2 linked regions of the Homo sapiens genome follow. The protein of the gene in region 2 purifies or fractionates together with the protein of the main gene of each other region. This does not show direct contact. Each region holds a gene or a part of one and is shown on either strand. Other genes may lie near its edges.

Evidence for each region. The genes of interacting proteins can lie anywhere in the genome.
Region 1: the proteins of UTP6 (region 2) and GBP1 purify together in Homo sapiens (affinity purification with mass spectrometry; 2 studies listed by BioGRID and IntAct, with this or other methods). This does not show direct contact.

What each region holds. Positions count from the first base shown.
Region 1 is NC_000001.11:89,062,188-89,069,569, forward strand, and holds the start of GBP1 (guanylate-binding protein 1), read right to left. Parts: upstream 3,022-7,382; 5' UTR 2,973-3,021; intron 1,067-2,972; 5' UTR 1,048-1,066; coding exon 858-1,047; intron 1-857.
Region 2 is NC_000017.11:31,870,704-31,877,729, forward strand, and holds part of UTP6 (U3 small nucleolar RNA-associated protein 6 homolog), read right to left. Parts: intron 4,711-7,026; coding exon 4,531-4,710; intron 3,051-4,530; coding exon 2,970-3,050; intron 2,785-2,969; coding exon 2,675-2,784; intron 1-2,674. UniProt on the Homo sapiens protein: Part of the small subunit (SSU) processome, first precursor of the small eukaryotic ribosomal subunit.

The DNA of each region.
Region 1 (7,382 bases), on a different chromosome or scaffold from region 2:
GGGACTTGAACAGATATTCAGACACCCATGTTCCTATTAGCATTATTTATAATAGACAAAAGGTGGAAGAAATCCAAGTGTCCATTGACAGATGAAGAGATAAACAAATTAGTATACACGTACAATTACTAAGCCTTAAAAAGGAAGAGTTTTGACACATGCTAACACACTGATGAACCTTGAAGACATATGAATTGAAATAAGCCAGTCATAAAAGGACAAATATTGAATGATTCCACTTATATAAGGTTTCTGTAGTAGTCAAATTCATAGAGATAGAATGTAGAATGATGGCAGGCAATGGGTTTATGTGGAGCTTTTGTTTAGTTAATACAGTTTCTGTTAGGCAAGATGAAAGATTTCTGGATATGGATGGAGGTGACAGCTGTATAACAATGTGAATTTCATTAATGCTACAGAGCTGTACACTTAAAAATGGTTACGAGGTTAAATTTTATTTTTTTTACAACAACAAAAAATAATATCCACTACAGATTGAAACATTTTTTCAACCTTAAAGATCACTGTGAACTCTGTTATTGCATAAAAATTGTAATAAACATTGTATAGTTTATTATAGTTATTATTATGTACATTAATTATTTTTATTACTGTCTTACTCCTTTTAGGAGAGGCATAATTTGTGCTTTTGAAATGGAAACTAAGGTATCATGGGAATAATTAATGAATTGATTCTTATCCCCTAGAACAGCGTGAAGATAAGGAGCCCGACTGTGAATGGAAAGTTAGCTTTCAGTATTCATCCTCATCTCTTTCTCTCCTCACATCTTCATAATGGAGGCTGACTGTGTAGATGGACAGAAGGGACTTGGCAGAGCTTTGCTCATGCCACTCACCCTTTTTCTTTCCAGCCAGCTTGTTCATCAGGTAGGATTTGCCTGTGCGGTAGAGGCCCACAATTGCCACCACCACCATAGGCTGTGTAATGGCAGAAAGGATCTTCAGAGCTTCTGGATTCGCCATCAGTCGCCCATTAGTGTTCTCAATGAGGCACATTGGGCCTGTCATGTGGATCTCTGATGCCATGTCCAGGCTGTTCCCTTGTCTGCAAGAGAAGAGGTGAAATACATGAGAATTTCTAGTGTTTTGCAATTATAAGGGAGAATCATAAGATTCCCCAGTATGGCCAAAAGTTTTGTGTGTGACAGCAAAAGAGATGAGGCAAAATCTGTATCATTTGAGAAAGTTATGGAAGTATTGTCAAAGTAGCTCATTATGAAAAATGTTAGCATGACAGTGACTTATCAACACTCAACTACTCTCACGACCCAAATATTTCATTTAGTTTATTGTGGAAAACTTTCTTTTTGGATTCTTATTAGATATTTTCACTAGTCAATTAATGGAAGATAGAATAGGATTTAGAGGATTTATTTGCATCCTGGCTGTATGTAAGGAATTCAATATTGATTCACTTATTAATTCTCACAGTGAATAAACATCCAACACAGTGAATCAGTATTCATAGTTTGATGTTTACCCTTAGAAAAATTTCCAAAGATTTTTAAATGTGTTCCTTCCTCCATCTTCAAATGATTATGCTTATTTCACTGCAATGAGGATTGACAAAGCTTCTCACATTGCCATTCTGGAAGTGGTAACAATGTAACATACTTTTGCAAATTTTATAAAACTATACAACCATGTGAAACACATGGCTAGGGAACCTTCCAAGGGCTCCTAAGGGTCATGTCCAAGAGAAGGGCCCTGAAACTTAAGCTTCATTAGAGTCACGATAAGATAGCTTCTAAGTCACTGAGGGTATGAATGCAAAATTGCAAATACTGAATGTTTCCTCCAGATAATAAGGATTAAAAGATCAAGAGGCAGATAAAGAGAGCTACCTAGGAAGTTGTTCAAATAAAATATATTTCCAGCGATACAGCTTTAGGATTTCTGTTTTGTTCTGTTTTCCATTTGGTAGGGTAGGAGAAAGAGAAATAGAAAGAGGAGGAATAGTAGGAGTGGAGAGGAGGATAAGGGGCTGGGAATGTGTGTGTGTGTGTGTGTGTGTGTGTGTGTGTGTGTGTGTGAGAGAGAGAGAGAGAGAGAGAGAGAGAGAGAGAGGAGCTGTCAGACCAGAGGTGATGAATGAGGCTAGTGTCTTGACAAGGCATTCAGGGGAAGACTTTGCAGAAGGCAGGATCAAAGTAGTCTGAGTGCATGGAGAGGTTAAAGTAAGCAAAGATATTTTCTGTAGAGATGCATTACAGGAGAATTAAAGAGGAAACACTTTTGGCCCTGCTCTCTACTAAAAGAAGACAAAATTGGAAGCACTTCAGTGAAGCAGTGGGGTTGAATTTCACTTCTAAGGGACAGGGATCAGTGGGCACTAGGAAATTAGTGAGTCTGGACTATTTCTAAAGAAAGTAATCCATTCTGAAACAAAGTTCACAAGTGTAATAAAAAGTATACTGTTTTCATGAATCTTCATCTTTCAGGCTGAGTTTCAGTTTTTTCTTTGTCTTTAACCGTGTCAGTGGGCTGCTTACTCTGCTTCTCATTTGCTGTTCTTTCCTTCCATGAAAAGAACCCGTTTGTAACTCTTCCATTTCTTAGCTGCATAGAAGCAGGATTCAGTCCATCACTGACGATGGAAATGTAATCATATCCCTAGTCAACATAGATAATGTCAACAAAGAGAAAGACTATCCTAGTACATTTCAAATGCTCAGTTTAGCCCCTGTCTACTGGTGCCTAATTCAACACAAGCACTGTAGTGGCACTTAAGGCCATGCTGTCCCTGATAACACCAGGATTTCATCTGACCTGCGTCCCACTTCAGGCTCATCTGCAGCCTAATTTGGTTCTGATGATGTTTAAGAAAATGAACTGACCTTTATAAATTCCTTCCCATCCCTGCCACAACCTTATAGGTTCCATATCACTGAGCTGAGATCCTTTGGAGCTAGAGAGAAAGCTGCTTGATGAGAAGTAGTAAAAGTTCTTACCTGTTCTTTTTCTCCTTAGTTCACGAGCACTGGCTTCTAGCACTTCTGTGTCTCTCACTGGATCCCTGGACTAATATTTCACTGTTCCGAAGTTGTAGGGCTGGGATTTCCTCATTGATGAAATATTTAGAAGCTAAGCAGATTTGTAATGGATTTAGAGTAATATGAAACTGAAAGTACTTCGTTCAAATCACTGACTCCACTACCATAAATGGAATTAGTGGAGTGTGCCAGTGGGAGGGTTTAAAGATTTCTCAACCAGAAGCTTCAAATTTTTTTTGTTGTTGTTGGAAATCTTAGAGACCATTTGTTGTCTAACAAAATGCCCATTAGGTTTTGAATACAATGATACATGTCTCATGGATTGAGTCAATTTGAGAAACCTAGAATGAGGAGGCATCATGTTAATTTTCAGCTACAATTTCCTAAAATAATAGACACACTCTCAATGGAGCTGCCTATTCTTTGAGAGGTGCAGTACATAAGGAAAGGACATGTTTAACACACTCATGAACACCTAACCCCTGGCACTTAATGCCCAGCACACAGCCAGGAGGGGGCTCCATGTGTTGTACTCATGTTCTAGGCTCAGTACTGATGGCTTTACATGAATCGCACAACTGAAAACTCATAATATTTCCTCATGGTTTTATAGAAACTGAGCACAGAAAGACTTTATTAGTTGTCTAAAATCATAACACTGTAACTAATCTGAACCCAAGCACTCATGATCCCATACCCTCTTCTTGAACCACTTCACTATGCTGCTTATTTACTAAGTGAAAAATTGTAGAAATATTTTATTTATAGGTTTTTTATTTTTAAATTTATTATAGTGTGATTTTATTTTTATAGATTGTTTTCTAAGAGCTGTTTGTGTTTTATGTCTAATTCAGTAATGACTTCTAGCATACAGAATAAGTGGCATTATCTCTATTTTACAGCAAAAGCAAATAAAATAGTAAAAAGCCTGAGTGAACATTTCATTTAAAAATATATTTATAGTGATGTGGTTTCACTTTGTTGCTTAGGTTGGTCTTGAACTCCTTCCTTCAAATGATCCCCCTGCCTCGGCCTCCCAAATTGCTGGGATTATAGGCATGAGCCACCAGACCCAACCTTGTGTGAGCATTTCTTTTTTTTTCTTTTTCTTTTTCTTTTTTTTTTTTTTTTTTTTTGAGATGGAGTTTCACTCTTGTTGCCCAGGCTGGAGTGCAGTGGCACGATCTCGGCTCACTGCAACCTCCGCCTCCTGGGTTCAATCAATTCTCCTGCCTCAGCCTCCCAAGTAGCTGGGACTACAGGCATGTACCACTATCCTGGCTAATTTTGTATTTTTAGTAGAGATGGGGTTTCTCCATGGTGGTCAGGCTGGTCTCGAACTCCCGACCTCAGATGATCCACCCACCTTGGCCTCCCAAAGTGCTGGGATTACAAGTGTGAGCCACCAGGCCTGGCCAAGCATTTCTCACTTACACATTAAAATTATATATTAGATGTATATAAATTGCAGATACAGTGTCTTTTCTCATTCATACTTTGTAAAATAATTTTATCTAAACTCTTTCTATCATCCTTCCTTAACACTGTAGCTCCTTTATTATTAAAACTACTTTAAAGTCTTTTACTTTTTAGAGCATAACATTCTTACATCTGTCAAAATTATTTGAACCATTTAAAATCTCTGCAGATTGTCCTGGAAGTGTAGGGGTGGGTTGCCCCTCCACACCTGTGGGTGTTTCTCGTAAGGTGGAACGAGAGACTTAGGAAAGAAAAAGACACAGAGACAAAGTAGAGAGAAAGAAATAAGGGGAGCCGGGGAACCAGCGTTCAGCATATGGAGGATCCCGCCAGCCTCTGAGTTCCCTTAGTATTTATTGATCATTCGTGGGTGTTTCTCCGAGAGGGGGATGTGTCAGGGTCACAAGACAATTGTGGGGAGAGGGTCAGCAGACAAACACGTGAACAAAGGTCTTTGCATCATAGACAAGGTAAAGGATTAAGTGCTGTGCTTTTAGATACGCATACACATAAACATCTCAATGCTTTACAAAGCAGTATTGCTGCCCGCATGTCCCACCTCCAGCCTTAAGGTGGTTTTTCCCTATCTCAGTAGATGGAACATACAATCGGGTTTTATACCGAGACATTCCATTGCCCAGGGACGGGCAGGAGACAGATGCCTTCCTCTTGTCTCAACTGCAAGAGGCATGCCTTCCTCTTATACTAATCCTCCTCAGCACAGACCCTTTACGGGTGTCGGGCTGGGGGACGGTCAGGTCTTTCCCTTCCCACAAGGCCATATTTCAGACTATCACATGGGGGGAAACCTTGGACAATACCTGGCTTTCCTAGGCAGAGGTCCCTGAGGCCTTCCACAGTTTTTGTGTCCCTGGGTACTTGAGATTAGGGAGTGGTGATGACTCTTAAGGAGCGTGCTGCCTTCAAGCATCTGTTTAACAAAGCACATCTTGCACCGCCCTTAATCCATTTAACCCTGAGTTTGACACAGCACATGTTTCAGAGAGCACGGGGTTGGGGGTAAGGTCACAGAATCTCAAGGCAGAAGAATTTTTCTTAGTACATAACAAAATGGAGTCTCCCATGTCTACTTCTTTCTACACAGACACAGTGACAATCTGATCTCTCTTGCTTTTCCCCACAGGAAGCATACATCACAATGAAACATCTATTCAAGGAGAGCTCCTATAACTCCGGTAAGAATAACAAGAATCTGTGGCACTTGACCCTTGGGCCTCTTCATCCTCATTTTCAGTTCGGGTTGACAAAAGGTCCACTACTGGGGGCTATGGAAAGAAGGTGGGGCTGCCTCTTCTCTCACATTCTGAGCAGGGATGACATATCCTATCAGGAGTGCCAGTCCACCAGAATTTTTCATCCCCTCCAATAGTGAGTTGTAAAGACTAAATTTCTGGTGAGTGTGACCAGAAGTCAAGGGCTCCCAAACTTTCCCAGTCCCACTCATAGAGCAGAGGCTCCATAACTGCCCAACAGGTTCTCCTTGCCTGTTGCCTAGGTAGAGCTGATTTATCAAGACAGGGGAATTGCAGTAGAGAAAGCGTTTAATTCACGCAGAGCTGGCTGTATGGGATTCTCAAGTTTTATTATTACTCAAAAGATTCTCCCTGATAATGTGGGTATGGGGGTTTCTGAGGATAATTTGGTGGGTAGGAGGTTGGGGAGTGGGGAGTGCTGATTGGCTGGGTTAGGGATGAAATCACAGGGCATCAAAGTTGTCCTCTTGCATGAGTTGGTTCCTGGCTGGGGGCCACAAGACCAGATGAGCCAGTTTATTGACCTGGATGGCAATTGGAGAGGTCTGGAATCTTGTGGCCTCTAGCTGCATGACTCTCAGACCACAGTTTCTAATCTCATGGCTGATTTGTTAGTCTTGCAAAGTTAGTCTAGTTCTCAGGGAAGAAGGGGTTTTATTTTGGGAAAAGGCTGACTAAATTCCTTCCAATGTCAGTTTGGCCTATGCTCAGGGATGAACAAGGACAGCTTGGAGGTTAGAAGTAAGATAGAGTCAGGTCAGATCTCTTTCACATAATAATATTCTCAGTTATAATTTTTGCAAGAAGATTTCAGCTTTAGCTCAGGAATGGCAGAATGAGAAACCCTGGCCTGTCACCCTCACTCTGGTTCACTTGTAGGGTGGTTTTTCCGTGTTGGGAGGGGCAACTGGCAAAGAGCAGAAGCTACCACCTCTGCCCATTCGAAGGGGTCATGGCTCAGAGATATTTTCCAGAGAGAGAGAGGCAGTCCATAAAATCAGAGCTCCAAAGCTTTTCCCACAGAAACTGACTTTATTTGAAAAAGAGTGTGGGCCGGGGGGAGATTCAAGCCTGGAAACATAAATAAAATTTACTACTAGATGACTGACTTTACAAGAAATACTATTAATAAAAGAAGGTTTTCAGGCAGAAAGCAGATGACTCCAGATGGCAATACACATCCACATGGACAAACAAAGAGCACCAGTAAGATAATTATATAGTTATAAAAGACTGTATAAATGCATATTTCTTCTTATTTCTCTTTTTAACTAATTTTTAAAAGACAGTTGTATAAAGCAATATGTATATAATTGTGTTTCAGGCTCATAACATATAGAAACGTGATATACTTAAGAACAGGACAAGAGAGGACAGTAGGAGCGAAGCTGCATTGGAATAAAGAAATGACAGCAGATGTTAACTTGAACCCCCAGGAATACATTAAGAGAACCTGAAACTGTAAGTTAACATAACAAGCTCTATACATTTATACCTTCCCCTTCAGCTTCTTTAAAAGACATAAAATTATGTGAATTAATTATAACAATGTATTATATTGTTTGAACATATATTTAACGTATTTAATAGTATCAAAAAAGTGAGAAAACTAGTA
Region 2 (7,026 bases):
TAGTAGAGACAGGGTTTCACCATATTAGCCAGGATGGTCTCGATCTCCTGACCTCGTGATCCGTCTGCCTCGACCTCCCAAAGTGCTGGGATTACAGGCATGAGCCACCGCACCTGGATGTTTTTGTTTTGAGACAGGGTCTCACTCTGTCACCAAGGCTGGAGTGTACTAGCACAAACACGGCTCACTACAGCCTCAACCACCTGGACTCAAGTGATCCTCTGACTTCAGCTTCCCAAGTAGCTAAAATCACAGGCACATGCCATGACACCCAACTTTTTAAGTTTTTTTTTTTTTTTTTTTTGAGATGGAGTCTTGCTCTGTCGCCCAGGCTGGAATGCAGTGGCGCGATCTCAGCTCACTGAAAGCTCCGCCTCCCAGGTTCACGCCATGCTCCTGCCTTAGCCTCCCAAGTAGCTGGGAATACAGGCGCCTGCCACCACGCCCGGCTAATTTTTTGTATTTTTTTTAGTAGAGACGGGGTTTCATCGTGTTAGCCAGGATGGTCTCGAACTCCTGACCTTGTGATCCGCCCGCCTCGGCCTCCTAAAGTGCTAGGATTACAGGCATGAGCCACCGCACCCGGCCTTTTAACTTTTCATAGAAATGAAGTCTCGTTGTGTTGCCCACGCTCGTCTCAAATGCTTGGGATCAAGCAATCCTCTTGTCTCAGTCTCCCAAAATCCTGAGATTAGAGGCCTTGAACCACCGTGCCCAGCTCATATAGCTATGTTTAATAAATGATGTTTATAAAGAATTTTTGGCTGGGCACAGTGCCTCATACCTACAATCCCAGCCCTTTGGGAGGCCAAGGCAGGAAGATCACTGGAAGCCATAAGGTCAAGATCAGTTTAAGCAACAAGGCGAGACCCTGACTCTGCAAAAAAATTTAAGAATTAGCGGGGCATCGCCAGGCATGGTAGCTCATGCCTGTAATCCCAGCATTTTGGGAGGCTGAGCTGGGCAGATTGCTTGGGCCCAGGAGTTCAAGACCAGCCTGGGCAACACAGTGAAACCCCATCTCTACTAAAAATAAAAAATTACCTGGGTGTGGTGGCACACACCTGTAGTCCCAGCTACTTGGGAAGCTAACGCACAAGAATCACTTGAACCAGGAAGGCAGAGTTTGCAGTGAGCCAAGATGGCGCCATTACACTCAGCCTGGGCAACAGAGCAAGACTCTGTCTCAAAGAAAAAAAAAATATTTAGGCCGGGCACAGTGGCTCACACCTGTAATCCCAACACTTAGGGAGGCCGAGGCGGGCAGGTCACCAGAGGTCAGGAGTTCGAGACCAGCCTAGCCAACATGGCAAAAACCCTTATCTACTAAAAATATAAAAAATTAGCCGGGCGTCGTGGCACATGCCTGTAATCCCAGCTACTCAGGAGGCTGAGGCAGGAGAATCGCTTGAACCCGGGAGGCAGAAGTTGCAGTGAGCCGAGACTGTACCACTGCACTCCAGCCTGGGCAACACAGTGAGACTCCATCTCAAAAAAAAAAAGAAATTTTTTTTAAATCATAAATAAAATTACAGTTATACTATAATCTCAACTACATAAAAACAAATTTTAAAATTATGTGTTAACAGTAATTTTTCCTTCGATGATGTAATAAATTATCATGGTTATGTTTTCCCCCACCACAATGAACTGCTTTTATTGTTCAAAAAAAAGAAAAAGAAGGCCAGGCATGGTGGCTTACACTTATAATCCTAGCACTTTGGGAGGCTGAGGCAGGAGGACTGCTTGAGCCCAGGAGTTTGAGACCAGGCTGAACAATGTTGTGAGACTCAGTCTCTACCAAAAAAAAAAAATGTTTTAAGTTAGCTGGACATGGTGGTACATGCCTGTAGACCCAGACATTTGGGAGGCTGAGGTGGGCGGACTGCTTGAGCCCAGAAGGTCAAGGCTTCGGTGAACCATGATTGTGCCACTACACTCTAACCTAGGTGACAGAGCGAGAACCTGTCTCAAAAAAGAAAAGGAAACATTACTTTTTGAAAAAGTTCACTGGAGGCCAAATGCACTGGCTCATGCCTGTAATCCCAGCACTTTGAGAGGCCAAGACAAGCAAATCACTTGAGATCAGCAGTTCGAGACCAGCCTGGCCAACATGATGAAACCGTCTCTACTAAATTACAAAATTAGCCGGGCGTGGTGTCACACATCTGTAATCCCAGCTATTCAGGAGGCTAAGGCGGGAGAATCACTGTCTCAAAAAAACAAAAAAAAAACAAAAAAAAAGGAAAATGAAACAGTGTATTGGGTCAGGTGTGGTGCCTCATGCCTGTAATCCCTGCACTTTGGGAGGCTGAGGTGGGCAGATCACCTGAGGTTAGGAGTTTGAGACCAGCCTGGCCAACATGGTGAAACCTTGTCTTTAAAATCTAAAATTTAAAAATTAGCCAGGCGTGGTGGCAGGTGCCTGTAATCCTAGCTACTCGGGAAGCCGAGGCAGGAGAATCACTTGAACGCAGGAGGCGGAGATTGCAGTGAGCAGAGATTGTGCCACTGCACTCCAGCCTGGGCAACAGAGCAAGACTCCATCTTAAAAAAAAAGAAAAAGTGTATCAGATTACTCCCTCAGATGCTATCTGTGATTCAAATAATCTGGGTATGAGCGGCTGAGCATGGGGTAGAGGGACTAGTAACAACTATGAACGTCTGTGAGTACCTTTTAAACACAGCTCTGGCCTTTTTGTAGCCACCACTTCGATAAGCCCAATCCAGGTACTTATTCTTCAGGGTTACTGAGTCGGCACCTATGACAGCTAAGAGAGCTTTCTACAATTTAAAAGAAAAAAGAAAGAAGCTATGTGAGAAAACTTATAGATACCAAAACAGATTTTCCCAGAACCACCTGAGGCCACTCCATAGTGCTTTAGGCGCACCTGCAACACTAGAGCTGACCAACCAGGGAACCTTCTGCCATTCCCCACACCACAAGACTTGGAACACGGAGCCTATACCTTAAAGACTGCCTCAGTGTCTTCTTGGCTTTTGGCACCTTCACTCCACTCTGCCCAGGAAATCCACAATGGCAGACAAACCTACTCCCAGTTTAAAAAATGTTAGTTAGAGAACAGCATATAACAAAACATCGCATGTACCCTATAAATATGTAAAATATTATGTATCAATTTTTTTATGCTATAAAATGACAGTTTAGTCCTATGCTCTGAAAACTAGTTAAAAAGGCAGGTTCCTCCTAAGATAATCAACATGTAAAATAGGGATTCATTCCCAAACAGTCCTCATTGTGACAGAATTCTCATTGCCCAGCAGGAATGGCACTCCAGAACACAGCCAGCCTTCTGACCAAGTCACTCAGAGCAACACTCTTCTGTGAATTTTAGTTCCTTTCTATTGGGAAATATTTCATGTAGTTATCATCAATCATCTTTTAGTTAAGTAAGTAATTAACAGCCCACACAGTTAGACCCACAGCTACCCAGGTCATGTCTCTGCTGTCTAAGACCCACAACACAAGAACTAATTAATCTAGGCTGAACTATCTGATCTTCATTCATGTCCCAGAGGTACGTACAAATGAGCAGCAAAAGCGAGGCATGGTGGCGCACATTTGCAATCCCAGCACTTTAAAGACGGAGGCAGGCGGATCACTTGAGGCCAGGAGTTCAAGACCAGCCTGGCCAACATGGCAAAACCCTGTCTCTACTAAAAATACAAAAATTAGCTGGGCATGGTGGTGGGCACTTCTTATCCCAGCTACTTGGGAGGCTGAGACAGGAGAATCGCTTGAACCTGGGAGGTGGAGGTTGCAGTGAGCCAAGTTTGCACCACTGCACTCCAGCCTGGGCAACAGAACAAGACTTCATCTCAAAAAAAAGGAAAAACCACCAAATGAGCAGTAGTTTTTTTCCTACTTTATCTTCTGGAATACGTTTTACCTACTAATATAAAAAATTCACTGCAAAGTGAATCTGGCCATACACCGTGGCTCACGCCTGTAATCTCAGCACTTTGGGAGGCCAAGGCGGGCAGATCACTTGAGGCTAGGAGTTCCAGACCAGCCTGGCCAACATGGAGATATCCTGTCTCTACTAAAATAGAAAATATTAGTCAGGTGTGATGGCATGCGCCTGTAGTCCCAGCTACTCGGGAGGCTGAGGCAGGAGAATTGCCTGAACCCGGGAGGCAGAGATTGCAGTGAGCTGAGATCACGCCACTGCACTCCAGCCTGGACAACAGAGCGAGACTCCATCTTAAAAAAAAAAAAAAAAAAGGTTGGGCTTATATTCAGCAAGTGACATTAATATTCTACTGGTATTTCTAACTTTATAAGATATCTAAATAGAATAGGAAGTTTTATTTAATTTGGTTAACTTTCAAATAAAGGATATTAAATAGAAGCAAATTCTTCTACTCTTAACCTATGAACCATCACCACTGAATAGCAAATGCCACTCTAGAGTTGGCTCTCAATAGACAAGTACATTCCAAATGAGCCTTGGCTAGTCTTAAAAGGTTTCCCAAATATAATGAATACAAAAGATCCAGCTCACTGACCTGGGGTTTCAGGTGCACAAAGGCTTCTTCAAAAAGCATGGCTATGTCAGGGCTCTTTGACTCGATCAGCACCTGCAGCTTCAGCTGCCACATTGTCCCAGAGTCTCTAAACAATTCAGTTCCAGCTACTGCCACTTCCAGAGCTTCCCTCAGGAAGTTATAACACAGCAACGAAACACTCTAGACAAGATGAAGGATGACTGGAAAATTAATTACTGAAACCCAAACAATCTATGTAAATGTAAACCTATGCCTCATTTGAGGCAAGAATTTCACCAACCTTTCCACTACAATTTAAAATAAAAAAGAGGCCAGGTGTGGTGGCTCACACCTGTAACCCCAGCACTTTGGGAGGCCCAGGCGGGCACATCACGAGCTCAGGAGATCAAGACCATCCCGGCCAACATGGTGAAACCCCGTCTCTACTAAAAACACAAAAATTAGCTGGGTGTGGTGGTATGCATCTGTAATCCCAGCTACTCGGAAGGCTGAGGCAGAAGAATCGCTTGAATCCAGGAGGTGGAGATTGCAGTGAGCTGAGATCACACCACTGCACTCCAACCTCGGCGACAGAGCAACTCTATCTCAAAAAAAAAAAAAAAAAAGAAAAGAAATGAGCTATGTGATAACTTATAGGTATCAAAACAAATTTTCCATGGCTGTTAAACAGGCACGAAGTGAACAATTTAGAATTTCTCCTATTTTCACTGCTCCTACCCATGAGGGTTATCCAAAAACAGGGAAGACGTAAAAACCAGAGAACCTAAAGAATTTAGACTGTAAGTTAGGTTTTTTTGTTTTTCTTTTTCTTTTTTTTGGAGACAGAGTTTTGCTCTGTAACCCAGCCTGGAGTACAGTGGCGCAATGATCTCGGCTCACTGCAACCTCCAACTCCTGGGTTCAAGCAATTCTCCTCCCTCAGCCTCCCGAGTAGCTGGGACGACAGGCGCCCATCGCCACGCCTGGTTAATTTTTTGTATTTTAGTAGAAATGGGGTTTCACCATGTTGGCCAGGCTGGTCTTAAACTCCTGACCTCAGATGATCCACCCACCTCGGCCTCCCAAAGTGCTGGGATTACAGGCGTGAGCCACCATGCCCAGCATATAAGTTTTTAATAAAACAGTTCACAGCCAGGCATGGTGGCTCACGCCTGTAATCCCAGCACTTTGGGAGGCTGAGGCAGGCAGATCACCTAAGGTCGGGAGTTCAAGACCAGCCTGACCAACATGGAGAAACCCTGTCACTACTAAAAATACAAAATTAGCCAGGCGTGGTGGTGCATGCTTGTAATTCCGGCTACTCGGGAGGCTGAGTCAGGAGAATTGCTTGAACCCAGGAGGCGGAGGTTGAGGTGAGCCAAGATCATGCCATTGCACTCCAGCCTGGGCAACAAGAGCGAAACTCCGTCTCAAAAAAATAATAAATAAATAAAAACAAAACAGTTCACTATGCCAGAACACATGCTCACCAAACAGAGGATGAAAATTAACAAATAGGCTGCGCTCAGTGGCTCACGCCTGTAATCCCAGCACTTTGGGAGGCCAAGGCAGGCAGATCACCTGAGGTCAAGAGCTCAAGACCAGCTTAGCCAACATGGTGAAACCTTGTTTCTACTAAAAATACAAAAATTAGCTAGGTGTGTTGGTGCACGCCTGTAATCCCAGCTACTCGGGAGGATGAGTTGGGAGAATCACTTAAACCTGGGAGGAGGAAGTTGCAGTGGGCCAAGATCATGCCACTACACTCCAGGCTGGGTGACAGAGCAAGACTCTGTCTCCAAAAAAATTTTAAAAATCAATAAACAAAAATCAATCCACAAAATCAGTATTTGTGGAGTGTCAAGGAAACAGGTATATTCAAACAGAGTTGGACATAACATAAACTAAAGCAAATTTTTCTGAAATTCAATTTGACAGTTTGTAGCAAGAGTCATGAAAGTGCTCAACGCTTCAATTTGGGACTTCTACATTAACAAATATGGTCCAAAAAATACATGAATGAAAGGAAATTTTACCTGTTCAAAATGCTTATACCTACATTATTTGAAAAAGAGAAAAAACCTAAAAACAATCCAATTGTACAAATTTGTGAAAAATTAAATGACAGTATATAATCAGTACATTCAGCAAGCATTTTTATTGCACACTATATGTGCTAGATTCAATAGTGAACAAATCAGATGCATTCCCTACCACCCATAGAGCCTCCAGTCTAAGAGACAAAACGGTTTGATATGTTTCTTCCGACAGAAGATGAATCATCTAGGCTGGGCACAGTGGCTCACGCCTGAAAGACCAAGTTAGAAAGCCAGGCACGGCCAGGAGCAGTGGATCATGCCTGTAATCTCAGCACTTTGGGAGGCTGAGGCAGTCAGATCGCTTGAGGTCAGGAGCTCAAGACCAGCCTGGCCAACATAGTGAAACTCTGTCCCTACTAAAAATACAAAAATTTGGCCAGGCATGATGGCTCATGCCTTAGTCCCAGCACTTTGGGAG